Homo sapiens: one gene and its partners. The protein of the gene in region 2 purifies or fractionates together with the protein of the main gene of each other region. This does not show direct contact. Each region holds a gene or a part of one and is shown on either strand. Other genes may lie near its edges.

Region 1 (7,026 bases), on a different chromosome or scaffold from region 2:
TGCTTAGAAGAGGGCTTCCTGAAGAAATGTCCTCTGCATGTATCCCCCGCTCCTGCAGCTTCCCCTGCCTCATCCCTCACCCATAACGGCCTCTGTCCTGGTCATGCGCTAATGCTTTAGGGTCACATGGTGGCTACAATATAATGAAGGAAACAAAATTTAAAAAAAAAAAGGAGGAGGAAGAAAAGAAGGGGATCATGTAGGTAGAAAAATACATTACAGAAAAAGAAAATCATTCCTATTTCTGAGTTATGCCAGCCAGACATATGAAATTGCTCTTTGATTTTTAATGCATCCTTACAGGGCATATTAAAGGAATCATTCTAGAGAGCTGCATTCACTGAGCGTAATACAAATTTCAGGTGTAAATTTGTGTCCTTGGATACAAAAACAGCTTATTCTCCAAGTCAGAAGACATCACCTAACTTAGTTGACATTCCTAAATTGTAGAAGACAAAAACACTACCTTTGATGCATAGCATACATTAATCTTCCACTGTGAAATTTTAGAAAGGAAGAGTGGCTAGGTGTTTCTCATAACCTTTGCAGATTACACTAAGGTTGAAGCTGCCAGCCTGTTTGGTTGTGTATCTACAAACCCCGGTTCCAATAGAGACCCATTATTTAAGTTTGAAGATTGCTGTTTAACAGGCCTGTTACTTCAGCAGCAGAAGAGCCATTTTTTAAAAGAGCACTGAATTTGAACTCAAGCCCATCTGGATGCAAACCATGCTGCCTTCTTCCTAGCTATGTGATTAAGTCCCAAGGTCTCCCCGCTCAGAAACAGGAGGCCTAATCTAGAGGAAGGGTTTCAGCTGCCCACTCATTTGTTACCTGTTTCCTTCTCTTCCTGGCCCTGTTTTCAATCTTGCCTCTCTTCTTGCCTGCTGAACCTCAAGGTGAGGAATTCAGGTCATATGTAACCTGCAGCCTTATTTACATTGAGGGGAAAACTACAGAACTTCTCTCTGCACAGCTACGCTCGAGCCAAGAGCCACAGTGGTGTCCATATCCTACCTCCAGTAGCGCCCTCCTCCTGGGCAGTTGCCCCTTCACAGGTGCCTTGGGCCTCCCCAGCACTGCCTTCTTCTTGCGGTGGGCTCTCGGCAGCAGCTGCAGCTCCCTCCAGGCTCCCCCTCCGCTGCCAGACCTCCCCCAGCTCCTCCTGGTCAGGTACAGTGGCCGATTCTGCCCCTGGCCCTTCATCCTCCCCACTGGGCACCTGTACCACAGGTAAAGAACCAGCAGTGCACACGGATTCCTGCGACCCTTCGGCAGGGCCACTGCTGGTGGGCTCTGCTGCACAGGCTCCGTCTTCCTCCTCCTGAGAAGAAAAGGCTGGGGTTTCAGGAAACCGTGCGCTCTCAAGAGAGGAGCACCGTGTGTCCACAGAGGACAGCTGCGTGGTCACACTCTCATTGCAGGAGCTGTCAGCGCATTCCAGGTCACTCTCTCCCTCAGGCCTGGTGCTGGCTTCGCTCACACTCTCTGTCCTGGCAGGATCACTGGGTTCTGTTTCAGAGGACACCTGGGAAGGCTCAGAGCCCTGATCGAGAGACTCGGTCTCACTGACGGCTCTTCGGCTTCCTCCTGATGCATCGGAAGTCCCTGTGTCTGCGCCACTTGTGGGCTGATCTACCTCTTGAGAGCCACACAGTTCAGCACTGCCCTGGTCAGCACTGGGTTGAGGCTCTGGGCCGCCTTCACCTTCCTCTGGGGCTGGGCCTGCAGGTAAGGAGCTCTCTGCAAGCTCTGGAAGATTTTCTGGCTTATCCTCAAAGGAAGCAGCTTCGTGTGTGGAGGCTTCCTCATTCTCAACAGGGTTGTCCTCCAGCTTTGTCTGAGATGTCAGGCTTCCATCATCAGCTCTGGATGCCCTGCTAAACATGATCAGGCCTCCCTCCTCCTCCAAGGAAGATGGGTAACCCAGGTCTTGCTGGAACTCGTGATCTTCTTCATCTGAATCAATATGAAGCATGGCATTGAGTCTTGTGTCAGTGGGAAAACTACTCCTCAGTTTCGGAGAGGCACCCATGGACCTCTCAGAGCAGGTCGCTGTCCCCGGCCTGGAGTGGCCATTGTGTTCGATAGCATCTAAGTAATCATTGAGTGAATCCTGACGTCCTCTGGGAGGTGAGGTCCTTGAAGACGTAGAGGTTAATTCCTCTGTGTCTATTTCCAGAGTGGAGCTAGTCCTGAATGAATGCTTGGGGGTTCCATCGGCAGCACTGTCCTCAGAAACTGGCCCATTAGAGCACACCTGGCTGTCGTGATGGCTCCCTGGCATGTCCTCGTCATCGGAAGGGCTACCTAAGTCTCCATTCACAGAATTGACTCCAAGTATTGTGCCAACAGCTTCTGGAGAGGCATCTGAATGAGAAAACAGCATTTCTAAAAAATTAACCAGAAATAATAAGTGAACGTTTTATGACTTATTTGCTTTGCCACCAATAAGTTCAAAGAAATCAGTCATTCTGAGGGCTTTCTACTGACTTGCTAAGATTCACCACTCACTACTAAATGAGGAGACTGCTAGTCAGCTTGGCACAGGAGCTATGTATGTTAGCATGGCTGAAAACTCTACAGCCCAGTTTCAAAATGCAGGCATCAATCTAAGAGACATTTTTGGGCAAACAGCCTTTCCTACTTGCTTAGAAAATTTCAGCAGGTAATTATTTGACAGCTATTTTACTTTCAAAACAGAACATGAATTCAATTCTGTTCAGAAGCAAACTGACAATCGAGTTAGGTTTAACAAGTTTTTCCTATAGCAATGTATTCATACAGATATATTTATATCTCACCTTCATGAACAGAAGACGTAACCTCCACTTTAAACTGGAGGTACCCACTCACGTGGTCAGCTGGGAGCCTTCTGCCAAGGTTGTAGCTGAGCATTTGATCACTGCAAGAAGAGAAATGCTTCTTTCATCCTGACTACGCTGGAGTCAGCCTTCGCCGTCTTTCCACAGGCCACCCACCAAATCCCTCCTATCTCTCTTAAAACTTTCAGACTCACAAGAACATTAAAGGCTCAAAGCCCATTATAGTCCAATGTAATATTATTCATTCATACAAATGGAACACTTATAAACCCGGAGATAAAAGGAAATGTTGCCATAAGAAAAATTATTATTACGAGCACAAGACATCATATGCTATGTGATATTTTTAAGGACACTGATTCACTCTCTCACTTTTAAGGGTGACCAGGAAAAGGACATTTTGAAGGTCATAAAGGAGTTGTGAAAGGCCTCAAGTTTTAGGGGTTTTTTGACTCGGGTGTAAAAGGGGAGAGAGCCTGGTTCCTCGGCATTTAGCACAACAGAAAGCTGGTTCTAAAAGGACACTCACAGCTAAGGATTATCACCCAACATGGCACGTAGGGCACTGTGCTATGCCCTGAAGAACAGGAGCTGGGACTTAGGGGAGAGAAGCACAAGAACACAAGAATGAAAGCGCCCTTCATAGCCAAGACAGCAGCCCTGGCTGTGTGATGGGGAGAGGACCGCTAAGCTCTCCTTCCTCACCTGTAGAGTAAGGAGGCTGGAGCTGCTGGCCTTCCCTGCTGGGAAGCCTGGCCTATCACTGATTCTCAGGGTGCCTTGTAAGCAGTGCTGATGGGATGGTTGGCAAAGCCAGATGTGCCCCTGTGGTGGGGTCATATCCCAGATCTGGAAGCAGGTTTAGTTTTTGCCTTGCCTGGGCCCCGGGCTTGGACTGTCTGCCTCCTGAAGGATGGAGTTTTCCATCTGTTTCAAGTCTGTTTCTTTATCAAAGTCAAATGCAGTCATTTCATTTTCCTGCACACAAGTAACAATCTTATTCTGAATTAAATGACTTATTCTTTTTCTCTCTTTTTTTTTTTTTTGAGACAGAGTCTCGCTCTGTTGCCCGGGTTGCCTAGGTTGGAGTGTAGTGGTGCAATGTTGGCTCACTGCAACCTCCACCTCCCGGGTTCAAGCAATTCTCCCAGCTTCAGCCTCCCAAGTAGCTGGGATTATAGGTGCCCGCCACCACACTCAGCTAATTTTTTTGTATTTTTAGTAGAGACAGGGTTTCACTATGTTGGCCAGGCTGGTCTCGAACTCCTGACCTCGGGTGATCTGCCCACCTCGTCCGCTCAAAGTGCTGGGATTACAGGAATGAGCTGCCGTGCCCGGCCAACTTATTCTTAATTAAGGAAAATCATCAAAAGGATAGTGCCAAATCACTCCACCTCTGCCCTCTAATGGCTATTTCAGAAGGAAGATACAATGTTTCTTCTATCTACTCTTTGCTCCACTGTACAGTTTAGAGCCTCTAGTCAGCTATGCATTATTAATTTGCATAACTTGTTTTTGGTCTTCTCTATCTCCTCAGTATGACTTACTACTTTACTCACAACTTACAAAAAGCTCACAAAAAGAAAATAGACATTAATTACACATTAAATTTTAAGAGAATGTCAATGAATAAATTTTAGTTGCTTGAATGAATGTATATGTCTAGGAGCTTTATTATAACACTTCTTCAAGTCTAGGTCTCGTTTTAAATGGCTCCAAGACAAGATTGTTTCCGTTTTTCAAGAGTAACAAGTTCTCTGGATGGAATTATTTAGGATAAGGTAGGCATCAACCTGATCCAAGAATTCTGCCCCAGGGAGAAGTTTTTATAAAAAGCTCCAATATACTGAGAGACAATCAAACACTATGAGATTTGACACTGAAATATTAACAGTGGGTACATCTTGGAAAAGATAAAGACGCAAAAAACATATATAATTAAAATAAACTACTTTTTTGTCAAGTACATTTTAATAAGTGTAAGGACACTTTTATTTTTAAAAGAATTGTGTTACTACTTCTTATCAGTATGAAAAGTCCTAGGACTACCAAGTTTCATGTCATTTTTTCCTATATGAACTAATCTCAACAAGATCCCCAAAGGTAAGGGCTGATTACCCGATGGCTTGTCGCTCCAGCAGCCTCTGGACTGGAATGGTTAGTTTCCCCAGAAAACGCTTGATGATGGGACGGCTCTTGGCAAATTTGTCTTTAATTTCAATTTCTAAGACATCAGTAAGAAGTGCAAAAAAGGAATATTTCTGAAAACACAAACAGATAACATGCTGGTTTAAAAGAAAGACAAATATGATACTATATCATTTTATTTGTATAGGAAATGGTATCTCTTAAATTCTAACAACATACAGAGTTCCACATAGCTAGAAATAGCTGCAGCTATTGTCAATCCTTTATTCACTCAGAATGATTAGCATTCACCATGATTAAAAAGCAGCAGTCAAGGATCTGTATGACAAAAGAAGCCCTCTCAGTCAATCATGCAGCCCTTCCTAGTTTCACAGTTTTAGGAGATGTTATCAAATATTAAGTTATGCACAATGCAATTTTAGTACTCCCTACATTTATTGTATCTCAATTCTTTGATATTTAATATCTTGTTATAGAATGGATTAGAATTAACTAGTATATTTGATTGACAATTTGAATTCCTAATCTCATGAAATTCTGAAGTTGCAAAACATAGTTGAAAATACTCCTCCACTTAGTGGTTAAAATAGGAACATCTGCAGAATACTGTGGTTTCCCTGATAAATGTTAAAAGAATGTTTAAATGGAATTTTTCCTTAAGTTTAAAAGGCATACAGGGTCATTTCTTCTGGGACAGAAAAATAAAAGTATGAGGTTAAGATAGCTTTTGTTGTTTTCATTTTAAGAATGCCACTGGGGAAATTTGGATCGGACATTAATAAGGATATAAAATAAATATGAAGAGCTTTACTCACAGAGACTTTTACATATATTATCTTCACTTTATCTTTACAACGATGTAACTTTCTTTTTGAAGATGAGAATCTCAGGATAAGTAAATGATGGTGCCAGGAATCTAACCTAAATTATTTCACTGCTTCCCTGACAGTATCCATGCAACTATAGTGATGTGAATAGTGTTAGCCAACTTTTCACTTAGGTGCCTCTAGGTTTATCTAGTCATAACAATTAAGGTTTTCCAAAGGGCCAAGCAATTTGGCAGTCTGCTTAATGGAAAAAAGTACTTGCTTAGAATAAAAAAGCCGAGTTTAATCCCCACTTCTGTCTCTGAATAGCTAGTCCCATAAACACTTTAAGCTTCAATTTCTTAATCACCAAAATGAAGACATAATAATCTCATCCTTCGTGCCTCCCTTTCAGGCTTGCACTGGTGACATGGTCAAAAACTTTGCAAATTTAAAATGTTAGGAAAATAGTTACTGCTTGTTTCATTATCATATCTATTATGTGCTTTCTAGAATCATATTGAGATATATTTTTATTTCTTCTAGGCTTTGAAATGCATTAGACTAAGTGGCATGCCCTTAAGAGTTTTTTTTGTTTTTTGTTTGTTTTTTTTTTTTTTTTTTACCATGATGAGATCATTAGTAGTTTCTTAAACCAAGTGTAAGAATACAAGCAATATTCAATATCTAAAACCATAGGAACTGCCCAGGAGAAATGCCTTGCTGTGTTGGCAAGTCTCAGATAACTATATCTTTTCTGCAATCGGTTTTAGATCCCCTGATATACCTCTCTCCAATTAAATATTTCTACAATATTGTTAGAACATATTGTTGTCATTAAATATTTAGGGTATGATCTAATTAACTGTGTAACTCCTATGCCAGCCCAGAAAGATTTTCACACTAGTTATGTAAAACATGCCTCAGATCTCCAAGAAATGGAGGGAGAGCTCAAGCTTTGCTCACTAGATAAGAAGTGTCTATTTGTTCATTCTTTGACTTTCCGTAGTTCAAATGAGAAAACCCTTTGCTTGATTTCACTGATATGGTGCACTAAGATGACTGGTAGCATACTGTAGCTGTGAGGAAGTCTAAAATACCATCAACACAATCTGGCTTCACTCAGGATGATGACTCCTTGAATGGCTCATCTAATTAACAAAACTCTAGAAATTCATAAAACATTTGCCAAAGCCCGCAGAGAGAGAAATTCCTTTAATTTGTACTAAATGTATGCTACAACAAAA
Region 2 (7,083 bases):
AAAAGAAATTTAGCATTCCTAATTCTTTCTGTAGACCAGATGCCATTTGAGCTTAGATGAATAAACTTTACCAACTCATCTTCTACATGATAATATGCACTGCCATAGCTTCACTGGCAATGCTCTTCTTTAGTTGTACATCTGGATGGAAATACACCAAAATGTTAACAGTGGTGTCTCTGAATGGACGGACAGTAGAATTATGGGTGATTTTCTTTTAATCAAGAAATAAAATATAACAGATTAAATGGTGTTCACATAACACAAATTATACTATTTATTAATGAAGGATATCAGAATCCAAATTTGATAGTGAGTTTCATCACAAAATCCATAACATATTTAAAAGTCTATTAAGTATGAAGAACATAACAAACATAATATGCGTTATGTTTGTAATAGCTCTCAAAGCTAAAAAACAAATACTACTCATTTTGCTAATAATACAGCAAGTCTTCTGTCCAGTCTGCATGCCAAATTTGCTGCACTGTGACGATATTAAAGAGTTAAGTCAGAGTTACAAAATCTTGAAATACAGAATTAAGACCAAAGGAAAAAAATCCCCCTTAGTCCCATAGCACTCGAGCCTATCAGCTGCTAGTTAAAATAGATTAAGCATAGATTTCATATTTTTCTTTATGAAACAGATTCTGACTACTGGTAGGTTTTTTTTTTTTTCAACCAAACACCAAAACTTCCAGTTGAGATGGCTTCCTTTTTTTTTAAAAATAAAAATATTGAGCATGTTGATATAATATGCAAAAAACTCCAAACTTGGCAGTAATCTTAACATATCTCCTCAATATCATACAACTTGACAGCAATGATCATTTATCAGTCTTTGATAGAGTTCTTGAGATTGAGTTCAAACTTTAATATATTAAGGTGAAAGAGCCATTTGACTCAAAAGCTAATATAAAAAGAGATTCCTACTTAAGCTCTGAAGAAGCAATGAAAGGGGAAGGGAAGCTAGTTATTCAGTCTAGTTGGAATTTTACTCAGTAGTGCCAACTGCATCTAGTGGAGGGATTAGAAAAAAGCAAAGGAGATAACATAGTAGTGGGATGTTATTCTGGGCACCAAAAGCACATGTAACTGCATACTGGCAACAGTGAGACAAGCTAACAAAGGGGACAGAAGATGTACTTGACAGGATTATAGAGAGTTAGCAGATGAGTAGGAGGAGATGGCATATGAGACGTAGGCTGGGGAGAAGTAGGAAAGAGCCTTGATGGTAAAGACGAATAGTTTAAATATAATACAAAATACAATAATGGCCCAGTGAAGCAAGCTGAGAAGCCCAAGATAATGTCTACAGTACAGCATTTCAAGCTGTCTAAGGAGTAGCTATTTAGACAAAAAATCTGAAAGGGGGAAGTTATGAAAGCGACAAGAGAAAACATTCAAAATTTGGTCCAAGCGTTTTTGTTTTTGTTTTTGTTTTTAAGAATTGAAAAGATAAAGCGAGACCAGGCGCAAGCGGCTCATGTCTATAGTCCCAGCACTTTGGGAGGCCAAGGCGGGTGGATCTCTTGAGGCTAGGAGTTCAAGACCAGCCTGGCCAACATGGTGAAACCCTGTCTCTACTAAAAATACAAAAAGTAGCCAGAGGTGGTGGTGCGTGCCTGTAATCCCAGCTGCTCCGGAGGCTAAGGCAGGAGAATCGCCTGAACCCGGGAGGCAGAGGCCGCAGAGAGCCTAGATTGTGCCACTGCACTCCAGCCTGGGCAACAGAGTGAGACTCCATCTCAAAAAATAAAAATATAATGAAAATGGCAGCTGGTAAGAATTTCTTGGAAATTTGCCAGTTACCTAAGTATTTAAGAAGACACAGTAAAAAGAAAATTTTAAAAATAGCAAAATAAATAATAAAGACAACTATTCAAAAGATCCTGAAAGCTTCAAACACAAAGAATAATGTACTACACAGTGACAGGAATGAAACATTTAATATTTTAAAACAATTTTCCAAACTACAAATAAATTTCTTAGACTTCTTTTTTATTAAATGCAATTCTGGTGTATTTATATAGCTAATTCTTATTTTTTCTGAAATGAGTTATATTCTAATTAAATAAATTTTACTAAAAAAATCCGAATTCAGCTGTTCACTAACCCTTAATAATTTTTAACATAAATGTAGACACAAATGTGCAATGAATTTATGTATTCATTATGGACTACACTTTTAAATCCATTCCTTGCTCAGTGGTTTTCGAATGCTTATTAAATATCATTGACCTTATGCTGAGGAAAAGCTGTCATTCTAGGAAATTCACCACTTCTACCACTAGGTGGAGAAAAAACACAAGTAGTATCTGTAATCAAAGCTAGTACAAGGCCCCAGGTACTTTACCTAGAATTTCCACCAGGTGTCAACCAAGAGGTAGGGAAAAGATAAGACTGTTTTTCCCACTTAAATATGCAAATTTATAATTTTATGCATAGCGATCTAAACTCTGAAATAAATGGCCTGCTCATTAATTGTCTAGTTTGCATATTTATACTCTTTATATATTGCTGTTGAGTCCAAGATATTGCCTTGTCAACTAAAATCCAACCCCCAAAAGCTTAGTTTCTTTTGAAATAAAACAGCAAGACCAATAAGTTTAGTTTATTGTGACTCATAGGCTCAACCTATCCATATACACTACGCAAAAGAATCTAAAACGTTTAGACACGGACAGCCAAAAATCTTCCAAGGTATTTTTGGTCATACATATATATATAGAGAGAGCACCAGATTCATATTTTTTCTTTCTACATTTCTCTTGTAAGGCAGTTCTGTTGATTGCCAGTAATCTAGATGAGTTTATGCTGTTATGCTCTGAATCCCAGTGTGATGTGACGAAAGCACTGCTATTTTTTACCAAACATTCACAATAAAAAGAGAAATGTACCTATATTTAAGATGTATCATGAGAATTACTACGTTAAATGGTCCAAGGCTCTCGGCCGAAAATTAAAGCTTCACACAGTTAAATCCCTATTTATATACCAAATCATGCTTTTTAAAAACAATTTTATGCGCTTCACTAATTTCTAACAAAGATTTTCCGATTCTGTTGCAAACAATATGTCAGCTAAACCACTATGTCATATGCCTTTTATAAGGTAGTACTTTTTTAGGCCGAACTCTATTCTTATTCCTCTGGACACAGGAGTTGTAATCATGTCTTACTCTGCAAATCTAGCCGTAGGTGGTGTCTTAAAAGGACTTTTTCTTCCTTCGAGGAAGTGATCAAGCTTCCCCCAGCCCCCACCCGTGTCATCCTGGAAACAACTTGGTTGTTTTTCGGTGCTAATTAAGCAATGTAGGAGAAAGAAGTTGAGGAGACAGCAAAGCCTATTGATTACATTGTACTTGCTTCTCTACCTCGCTCTTCAAAGGATTAAGGTTCCTTTGACCTCGACTGAGTTCATTTCCAACCTGCCTACAAAGTACTGGTTTAAAAAAAAAAAATCCAAGCAAAGTATGCTCTTGTCTATGAACAATATTTCTTGTCCGGTTTTATTACGTTTTCTTTGGAAATTCGTTAGATTATGCTCAACAATCGGCCGCTTGCCCAACCGGTTTCTCCCTTCCCCCATCTCTCTTCACACATCACTTTTTCCTCCTCCCATCCAGGCAGTTGGTAAAACGCTGCAGTGCCGGTAACGCACGCTTCGGGCTGGTCGCTGCAGTTTATCCTAACTTGGCTTTGCAAACTCCCCACCCAGCCCTTGTACCCTCGCACCCCACTCTGCCATTATCTTTCTAGTAGAGTGCGCTCGGTAACGGGCTCCAGATAGCACGTCGAGGGTATACGGTAGCCTGCCTACCAATAGGAGCCCACAATGAAGAGAAGTCAGGTTCAGCCGGCCAGCAGCTCCAGTATCTCCTTCCCCTAGCTCTACACCTACTGTACCCGGGAGCGAGCGGGCAAGGGAGCGAGCGCGGCGCGGCGCGGCGCGGGAGGGGGCGCGCAGGGAGGGCGGACAGCAGCCGCGGCCTGCGCCTGCGCACTGGGGTTGTTTTTCACAAAGCTGCTCTTAAAGTGAGCTGGCAGCTTTTAGCCGCCCGTCTTTGTAAGGAGACCACTGAGACGAGCGGGAGCGCGGAGCAGCAGCCTCTGCTGCCCTGACTTTTTAAGAAATCTCAATGAACTATTTGTAGAGAATCACTGATCCGGCCTGCAAGCATTTTGCACGGCAAAAATATCGATCAGTGTTAAGTGAAGATCACATTTTATATGCGATCTTGACTTTTTTGTCTTACATTATATTTTTATAGATTTTGTTATAAACATGGTGCTGGGAAAGGTGAAGAGTTTGACAATAAGCTTTGACTGTCTTAATGACAGCAATGTCCCTGTGTATTCTAGTGGGGATACCGTCTCAGGAAGGGTAAATTTAGAAGTTACTGGGGAAATCAGAGTAAAATCTCTTAAAATTCATGCAAGAGGACATGCGAAAGTACGCTGGACTGAATCTAGAAACGCCGGCTCCAATACTGCCTATACACAGAATTACACTGAAGAAGTAGAGTATTTCAACCATAAAGACATCTTAATTGGGCACGAAAGAGGTAAGTTTTTGTTATTCATAAGTCATTGGACTCATTTTCTTTGGAAACGTACCTTTTCAGTTTTCTGAATTAACGTGATTCTACTCCTAGCATAACTAAGCAGTTTGAGAAAGGTTAGCAAAGTTGGAAGGTTTGGATTCTCCTTGACGTTCATCGTGTGTTAAGCCGTAATGCATGCAGGCATCTGCAAAGTGACTGCAAACTACACTTATTCAGCTACCTCTGTACCCGGCTCGGTCTGTGCCACACGCACTTGTAGTCCATTTGCACCTTACTTATAAATTCTGTTTGAATCCAATTCAGTCGTTTTACTAATATATTTTCAAATGAATTGGTAAAAGCTGCAGTCTTAGATTTTTGCCCTTTTACTTGCAACCTAAGATGTAAAAACTGAACTTCGATCAAGAAATGTAATAACATTTTTAAGAGACTTAATGGGTGTGTTTCATTTTTAATATTGGAATGCAAAAGACTTTAAATAATTGATGACTGTTCTTTCATAAAAGATTTCTGTGGCTTATTTTGACATATGGTATCAACACCCCACGTGTTTTTTCTCTATTCTTTACCATTCCTTTAAAAATTTACACCCAGCATTCCTTATTTTAAAGGAATGACTATCTGTCATTATGATAGGTATCGAGTCAGGTTTAGAAGCCATTTAGGATCAGTAATTTTCTTTTCCGAGCATCATGTCTAACTTTGGAACGTGCATTCAATGAAACCCATGCCAGTCAAATGGAATTGAAAAGTATAGGGCACACTGGATTTGATTTTTGGTTAGAAGAGAGAGATAAAGGGTTGTCAAAAGGAGAAGGAGTCCTGAGATTTCCAATCTATTGTTTAAATGGTTACATTGTGGAAATATAGGAGACTCTAGGCTTGTTTTTCTAAGTTTCCACCCTTTGTTAGAAGCGGTTCAATCCTGTTTCGGACCAGTTCTGGGGGGTGGTGAGGAGGGGCGCTTGTTCTGCTCTCAGCAGATTGGTTACACGCGTCAGGTGGTGGCGATGACTTAATTCCTAGCCCAAGAAGAATATAATGTTAAAACTGGTTATGTAATTTTTGTGCCTCTCCTTTTTAATGCAGTATTTAGTTCAGATGTTGGCGATTTTTCAGAAAAAAAATTAGAGACATATTTTACCTTATTTTTTATATTAAAAACGTACATCCTGGAGAAGTGCTGATGACTAAGGCAAGTGAGAAATGAAGGATGCTTTGAGGGACAGTATTAATGCATTATTTTTGAAACTATTAAGGTGAACTCAGTTCTTTAGCAGGATTTTCGTAGTTAGATACAGGTACTTTGCATCCTGAAATAACTAATTAATCTCTCCAAGTGTTAACACTGATAGGAGATGCAAATGCCTAATGACAGCCTTGGTATTTGTTGAAAAGCAGATAGATGACTTTGTGTTTGTACCTTTCTGAATATTGCAGCCTTTTATGAAACGGATGAAAGAAAACAGATTTTTCCTCAAGGGGTTAAGACTTGCAGTGGGGAAAAGTAGAACAACGAGATGTGAGGACAAATATAATTTCATTAGTTGCACCATGATTTCGTGGTAAAGAAAACTAAATGCCCTGCACCCCCAACAAAATGCCCCCCAAACCCTGCAACGCGTAGACGAGCTCAGTCTGGAATAGTTTCAATGACTTGAAACTGGGAGCTCTCAAACTAGCCTGGTAACTGAGACCCCGCCCCGGGCGCCCGGGATAGGCGGAGCCAGGTTTGTTAGCCTGTTGCTAAGGCGATGGCAGGCGCTGATTGGATTGGGCGCGGGCGGGTGGGGAGAGTGAGCTCGCGCCGCGGCTGGGGCGAGGCTAGGAAACCGGCGTGCGCCGGTAAAGGTTCCTCCAGAGCGACCCCCACCCAGCCCGTACTCACGTTTGTTCCCGGGCTTCTGGGGGCGCCCAGCCCGTGTCAACATCATGTTCTGTCGCCCCTCTTTTGGGCCTCCTAAGGGCCATCGAAAGGAAACGACTTCAGGCTTTAACTGAGTAGAGGGCAGACGCTCCTGCCGGCCTTACAGGTGCTGGATGGCCATGGACCCAACTTTAGCAGAAAATCCTTTTCAGATGGAAGTTGGATGGGAAGGGTTGGCAGGACCCCCGTTAGCTATCTTCCGAGTGGGAGGTGTCAGGGGACTCCTGTGAACGCTTGTTTTCCCCTTAGCTGAAACAAAGCTTGTTCCCCGACCTCTCCAGTCGCCACACTGTCTACCTTGAGTTGACCTGAGGGGACAGAGCAAAGGCTGGCCCGAGGAAGAAGGAAAGTGATTCCAATATCGAAATGTTGGGGGAGGGGGGGGCTTCGACGGGTATCCTCTGCCCCCTCCCCCATCGTTTTCCGAAGCCTTCGGGCCCCCGCCTCCCCTTCGCCACCCCAATATCCCTTGCCGAAACTAAAGGTGTCAGAGTGGCCCGAGCCAGATGGAACCGGTCGCCGGCTGGGGCGTGTAAAGCGGAAGCGCCGCGGCTCGCTCGCCCCGCCCCCCGGCCAGCAGGCTAGGTTG
Region 3 (7,026 bases), on a different chromosome or scaffold from region 2:
GCCTAGCAGCAAGGAAACTCAGCTGAGAACAGGGGCCTCCTCCACCTTGTGCCCTTCTCCACTTGGAGTCTTCATGGCTAGAGGGGTCCAGGTGCACCTCTGAGGTTCTCCCTCCACTGCTTTCCTGGGTGGCTCCGAGGTGTGGTTAAATTGGGGGTGGGCACCCATGTCCCAGATGAAGACCCTGAGACCTCAAGAACTGGTAATACCCCTGGCGAGGGTCCCTCCCTGCTGTAGCCTGGGGTGGTCTGCGAGTCCCTTAGAGATGAGGCTTCCTCTCTCCCCATCTCTGGCCTTTGGAGAAAAATGAAGCCTCCAACAGTGACAGAAGGTGGCAGTGATGTAGAAAAAAATTTGGCCTAGGAATGGGAGTCCCGGGTTGTGATGCAAGCTGCTCTCCAGACCATTCCCTCTCCCCCTGTGTCTGTGCAGGGAGAGGGTGGACGAGGCGTGCTGGGGTTCCCTTGGCTCCAGTCTGCAAGAGCTGAGCTCCCACCAGGCACTTAGCAGCTGGTTATCCCTTCTGCTGCCGCCCCCGCCCCTTCCCCTCGCCCCCGCCGCCGGCCACCCGCCCGAAATAGAAAAGGAAAGGAAGTTATTTCCATAGTCAGCGGCAGCCCGGAAAAGCTCCCCTCCAGTGAGGGGGCGGGCGGGATTCCTAGAGCTGAAGACCAAATCAAAGCCAGGCCCGAGAGCTAGAGCAGCCCCCACCGCCCGGCCCTCGGCTGCCTTCTCAGTGTGCCGTTTTCCTGATTCAGCGGAACACGTGTCCTGCGGTTGCCACGCTGCAGGCTGCCATGGAGCTGTGGGGACCTCCTGGCCGGGCTCCGAGCTGCCCTCAGGCCCAGGGCGGTAGGGCGGGAGCCTGGGGGTCAGGGAGGGTGTGTGCCACCCCCTCTTCCTCTACTGCCTTGCCCAGCTGTTGGCTCTGCCATGGCACAGAGCTCCTGCCACACACACAACGGGCCTGGAAAGAGCGGCCCCAGAGCACCCTGAGAGCGAGATCCCTTCCACACTCACATCTCCACGCACGTTTTCAGAACATTGCTCAGGACACGGCCTCCTGAGGGGCTCCCCAGCACCTGGGCAGGGAGGCAGCAGTTTCTAGATAAGGAAACCGAGCCCTAGAGGGAACAGGGGCCCACCTAAGACTACCCTGCCGGCTGGTGGTTGAGCCAGAACTGGAGCTCAGATCTGCTTTACCCTCTGTAGGGATCCTGGCGTCCCCATATGCCCCTTCCTCAGCAAACCAGCATGCAGCAGGCTGTGCTGTTGGTGGCTTATGTGTCTGTTCCTTTGGACCATACCTGTCACTCAGCACCATGAGCCTGGCACTGTGTAGGTGCTAGGATAGAAGCATGAAAGGATGCGATCCCTGCTGTCTTTAGGGGACATTTGTAAACATCTATGGCTAAATCCACAGAGTTCCACATGTGCACCGTGGACAGACAGCTCTGTAGGTCCAGAGACCTGGAAGGGCACTGAGTGACTGGAGAGCATGAATGGCTGGGGAGTTCGCTGAGGCTGGTGGAGACATCTCCAGTGATGAGACAGAGTGACGGGCCTTTGTTCTGGAGGCAGTGGAGGCCATGGGAATCTCTGAGCAGGATCCGACCTGCCTGAGGACCTGGTGTGATGGGGCCAGGAGACCTGGGGTTGGGCTTAATGACTTCCTCTTCCCTGTCACCTGCCATCCCCTAGTATCGACGCGCTGGGCTCTGGAGCCCCTACAAGCCAGAGACGCTATCGGAACTGGAACCCACCACTGCTGGGCAACCTTCCGGATGACTTTCTCCGCATCCTGCCCCAGCAGCTGGACAGCATACAGGTAACAGGGGCCGCCCCCGCCTTCCACTCCCACCTGCTTGTCCAGCATCTCTCTTTGCCCACACAATTTGTGCCAGCCAGTTTTACTTCCTGATGTTTAAACCCAGGCTGAGCTATTTCTGTTGCCCTGGGTTCGTAGGGCAGGAATGCTGAACTGAAAGCCTCACTTCCTGCCTGGGCCTGGAGGTTTCCTGTTCTATCCAGGGAAGGTGACAGCCTAAGGAGGCTGTCTGCTGCAGCAGTCACCTCAGGCTGGAGAGAGGCGGGCATGGGGTGGCCAATGGTGGAGGGCCAGAGCACCCCCCTTCCTCCCTTGGGAAAGGGCCAGAGGCTGCTTCTTGCTAGATGTTGGCATGCCCCAAGGTGCCCCACAGCGGGGCAGGTCCACCCTGAGGCTGCTGGTGCAGGGAGAGGGTTGAGTTTGGGAATTGACGTATAGGCTGTTCCACAGTCTGCAGATTTGTTTTCAGGACTGTTCAGGTTGTAGATGAAGGTATGAGGTGGTCTGTGGCGTGGGGGAAAAATAGTTTTTAGGCTACTGCTGTGTCCCCTGCAGCAATGGCTCTGACCTGTCCGTTGGATTTTGGCTCGCAACCAGGTTCCATTAGGAGGTGTGAGCCTCAGGTGAGGGCTGGAGGATGTTGGACAGGGCATGTGTGCAACCAGAGGGATGTGGACGTTTGTGCAACATGTACCCTTGTGTGTACACATTCAACATGCTCGCTTCCCTCCTCAGGGTAACGCTGGGGGCCCCAAGCCTGGGAGTGGAGAGGGATGTCCACCTGCCATGGCTGGGCCAGGGCCCGGAGACCAGGAGAGCCGCTGGAAGCAGTACCTGGAGGACGAGAGGATCGCGCTTTTCCTGCAGAACGAGGAGTTCATGAAGGAGCTGCAACGGAACCGCGACTTCCTCCTCGCTCTGGAGAGAGGTGGGCAGCGCCTGCAGCCACTTCTCCCTGGCTGAAGAAGGGAGGTGATGCTGGCTTTAGCCTTGGGGCTCAGGAAAACACTGAGCTGGGGGCTGAGGGGGCCAGGTGCTTTCTGTCCTATTGAGGCATGACTCCCACCAAGTTATCCCATGGGAGCCTCAGAATTCTGCCTATGGGGACCTGGGTCACTAGCCCACCCCTTTCTCCCTCGGGACTCAGAGGAAGAAGGATGTGCACTCTTAGGCCTTCTTCCCTTTGCACACCTGCTCTGTGCCAGGCACTGGCCTTGGCACAAGGCAGCAGGGAGAAGAGCACTGCCCCTCCTCACAGAGCCCCAGCCCCAAGGCAGGCGTGATGTGTCTGGAGCTCCGGAAACAGAACGACTGGGTTCATGAAGGCCAGGGCGGGGGAGGCTCTTGAGTGGAAGACTTTAGAGCAGGGGCTCTGGAACTTTGCAGGTATTTGGGTTGTCTCTGGGTTGGAGACCCTGCTCCCTAGCCTGGCTGCCTTTCCCCTGCAGGGTGGGAGTGCGTTTGGGGTAGAGGAGACGAGAGGGCTGTGGAGCTCTGTCCCTGTGACGGCCACAGCGTGAGAGCTTGTGTGTGTAACTGATGGTGTGTTGGTGGGGGAGGAGCAAGTTGTGGAGGGAGAAGGCTGGGCTGAGGCCCAAGGTTAGCCCCAGCTCTGCAGCAAAGGTGCTAGAAGCCTCAAGGCTTTTCCGTTTATTTTTTATTTTTTGAGACATAGTCTCGCTCTTGTCACCCAGGCTGAAGTGCAGTGGCTCAATCTCGGCTCACTGCAACCTCCGCCTCCCAGGTTCAAGTGTTTCTCCTGCCTCAGTTTTTCAAGTAGCTGGGATTATAGGCGCACGCCACCGCACCTGGCTGATTTTTGTATTTTTAGTAGAGACGGGGTTTCACCATGTTGGCCAGGCTGGTCTCGAACTCCTGACCTCAGGTGATCTGCCTGCCTTAGCCTTCCAGTGTGCTGGAATTACAGGCATGAGCCACCATCCCTGGCCGTGCCTTTCTTTTTAAATGAGGGGGTTTGGACTCTACAGTCTCTCTGAGTCCTTTTAATTCTGACATTTGAGATGGCTGTCAGGCGGTAGTTTCTTTTACTGCTGGTTCTTTGAGAGCTGGTAGATGTGTGCACTCATATTTTGGGTGCCCGTGTGTGCTCATGTGTGATTCTGGGGACTTAGCCTCTAGCAAACTACCGTGTCCCAGCCCAGCCTGCCCCTGGGAGCCCAGGAGCTAACCTCCCTGACCTGTGAATGTGGTCCTTTTCCAGATCGATTGAAATACGAATCCCAGAAATCTAAATCCAGCAGCGTGGCTGTCGGAAACGACTTTGGCTTTTCCTCTCCTGTCCCAGGTAACTTTGCCTTCTGGGGAAGAAAACCTAGAGGCATAGTGGGGAGCTCACACCCAACTTTGCTTTGCATATTTGGAGTTTGAGAGGAGGGTGAAAAAACAGATTGTGGGAGGGGGCCTGGGCCTCCTCAGCAGGCTGGCGGGGCTGCTTCTGCCCCCATCTCCATATCCAGTCCATTTAGCAGCTCTGGGGTCTTTCCAATCCAGCCACTGCTGGGCTTCAGAGCCCACAGTTGTGTTCAAGTAACATAGGCTGGCTGAACTCTCAACCTATGCCTCGAGTGTAGGCTAGTCAATGACACATGGCCAGGTGCGGTGGCTCACGCCTATAATCCCAACACTTTGAGAGGCCGAGGAGAGTGGATTGCTTCAGCCCAAGAGTTCAAGACCAGCCTGGGCAACAAAATGAGACCCCCCTATCTCTACCAAAAAAGTACTAAAAATTAGCTGGGCATATTGGCCTGTGCTTCTAGTCCCAGCTACTCAGGAGGCTGAGGTGGGAGGATCACTTGAGCCCAGGAGGTTGAGGCTGCAGTGAGCTGTGATTATGCCACTGCACTCCAGCTTGAGTGACAGAGTGAGACCCTGTCTCCAAAAAAAAAAAAAAGAAGAAAAGGACCCCAAAATGCCCCGTGGTGGGGCTCAGAGACTCATAAGTCTTGGTCTGTGTCCTGGGGAAGCTTATGGTCTTGTAAGGAGAAATGCCCAGAAAACAGGTAGAACAAACTAGCAAAGCTGAGGACTTACTGATTTTAGCAAATGCATGGGAAAAAAGGAGGGCAGGATTAATCTGGGGAGTTTACTCATTCATTCATGACATAGCTGGAGAATATCTGCCATCTGTTGGGCCTTGCCCTAGGTGTTGGAGGAAGAGGAATTTCTAGCTTTGTGTACAAGGTGGTGGGAAGTAAGAATTGCCTGTAAAGAGGGCCAGGCCCTTCTGCTCAGAAGCTCTGATGGCTGAAAGAGGGTTGGATAGGGGTGAGGGGGCTGCAGTGCTCCTGGGATGCGCAGACTACTGGGTTGAGCCACAGCTGGGAACGATGACCTGGTGCCTGTGTGCGAACAGTGGCCCCTCATCAGTCAGTGCCCCCTGCCCCACATGTACACAAGCTGCCCACCTCGGAGAAGGGCTCTTGCCTGGAATAGACCTTGCATCATGCAGTGGAGTTGGGGGTGGAGGAGCAGAGGGATGGGGAGCTGAGCTGATCCCAGCTTGAAGGGAGAAAATCCTGTGGAACTGACTCATAAGCAGCAGGCTGGGAGCTTAGGGCTCAGCAGATGTGCAGCTGGGAGTTTTAAGCAGGAGCCTCTTGTCCTTGATCCTGAATTAACTAGAGATACCGGGGCTGCTGAGATGGATCAGAATGACTCAAAGGGGACTTAGCAGGCAAGGTGACTGGGGATTAACCAAGTTGCAGGACAGAGAGCAGGGGCTTCAGAAACCAGCAAAAAACCCAAGTGGATGCTGAGCGAGCCCGGGAGACTCTGGGTGGCCGGTGGGGTTCTGACTCCAGGACTAGTCCCATTCTATTCCTACTCATTGTCTAATAGCCAGAAACCCTGTGGCTGGGAGGGAGCAATGGATGGGCTTACCTGGCAGGAAGGACAAGGGACTTGCTACAGGTGAATGCCGGCTCTGAGCCAGCACCTCATTTGACTGTCACATGAATGTCGGGGTGCAGGAGGCCCCTGGTGTGCTGGTGAATGTTTCACAGCCAACTCTGGGTGCAGCGGGAGCCTGATATGTAGTGCTTGGTGACCTCCATGGTGGAAATACTCCCAAGCTACCAAGGTGATGTCATGAAACATGGAGTTGGTCAGAGGCGTGGACAGTTGGGAGCACACACGAGCTGGCTGTCTGCACACACAGTAGACCGCTGAACCCTCCCCATTTTTACAGAGGAGGAAACAAAGTCCACAAGGGGAAAGAGGAGCTCCTGGAACTCCACATCCTCCTTGCTTTAAACTCCCTTCTGGCCAGGGAAGAAGCCTGCTCTTTCTTTGCATTTGTCCTCAGATGGGTGGGTAGGGCTGGGACAGCGGCCATGGCTGGCCACGGTGGCCGGCCTTCAGCAGGTGTCTCCTTCCAGGAACTGGCGACGCCAACCCCGCTGTGTCTGAAGATGCCTTATTCAGGGACAAGCTGAAACACATGGGAAAGTGTGAGTCCCACTCAGGCCCCGCTTCCCTCCCCAGCTTTTCTGAGACAGGCCCTGTGGCCTCCCAGGAGTGAGGGAGCCCCTCAGCACATGTAATGCAGCTGACTCTTGGTGAACCAGTGACATTTTCATCGCAGGCTGGCTCCCTCAGCCTTCCTGCCTCACTTCCCTCTACAGCTGAGTCTAGATACAAATTAAGTTTTAAATCCTCTTGAGCCAGATGTCTGCAGAAAAATAACGTGCCACACATGCCCTCACCGCAATCCTCATGTTCACGTTCTCTGTGGCTCGAGGAGGCTTGGCCGGAGCTGACTGCACAGAGAGGCCCTTGCTAAGCCTCTGTGGGGGTGGGGGACCTCTTTCCACAAAGTCCTACCAGCCTTGAATGCCCCCTTCCCTCCCCCTCACCTCCCCGCCACACAGACCCACAGCCATGTGTGAATGAGGCTGCGATCCTTTCAGGCTCCATTTCAAGGAAAATCTCGGATTAGTCATGGAAATCCCAGAACCAACTTTGGAGGTGGCTAGGGGAGGGGCGGGAAGGCGGTGGCGGCGGGAAAGCGAGCCAAGATGCGTTGCAGTGTGTTGCAGCTGGGGAGGGAATACTTGGATCTTGAGCCGCCTGCGGTCCCTGGGCCTGGCTCAGGGTGTCCTGTGCTGCCCCTGCAGGCTGACCCAGGATGTAGCCTCTTGCTCCTGGGGTGGCGTCCTCAGGGGTCTGCGATTCCTGTC

Evidence for each region. Proteins that work in one complex are often made in the same cells at the same time.
Region 1: the proteins of ARRDC3 (region 2) and HECW2 purify together in Homo sapiens (co-immunoprecipitation; 3 studies listed by BioGRID and IntAct, with this or other methods). This does not show direct contact.
Region 3: the proteins of ARRDC3 (region 2) and CUEDC1 purify together in Homo sapiens (co-immunoprecipitation; 3 studies listed by BioGRID and IntAct, with this or other methods). This does not show direct contact.

The regions. Positions count from the first base shown.
Region 1 is NC_000002.12:196,317,535-196,324,560, forward strand, and holds part of HECW2 (E3 ubiquitin-protein ligase HECW2), read right to left. Parts: intron 5,087-7,026; coding exon 4,944-5,086; intron 2,906-4,943; coding exon 2,805-2,905; intron 2,392-2,804; coding exon of another isoform or gene 2,371-2,391; coding exon 1,018-2,370; intron 1-1,017. UniProt on the Homo sapiens protein: E3 ubiquitin-protein ligase that mediates ubiquitination of TP73. Acts to stabilize TP73 and enhance activation of transcription by TP73. Involved in the regulation of mitotic metaphase/anaphase transition.
Region 2 is NC_000005.10:91,380,297-91,387,379, reverse strand, and holds the start of ARRDC3 (arrestin domain-containing protein 3), read left to right. Parts: upstream 1-4,062; 5' UTR 4,063-4,287; coding exon 4,288-4,567; intron 4,568-6,455; exon of another isoform or gene 6,456-7,033; intron 7,034-7,083. UniProt on the Homo sapiens protein: Adapter protein that plays a role in regulating cell-surface expression of adrenergic receptors and probably also other G protein-coupled receptors.
Region 3 is NC_000017.11:57,868,393-57,875,418, reverse strand, and holds part of CUEDC1 (CUE domain-containing protein 1), read left to right. Parts: intron 1-1,701; coding exon 1,702-1,828; intron 1,829-2,563; coding exon 2,564-2,756; intron 2,757-4,049; coding exon 4,050-4,133; intron 4,134-6,225; coding exon 6,226-6,297; intron 6,298-7,026.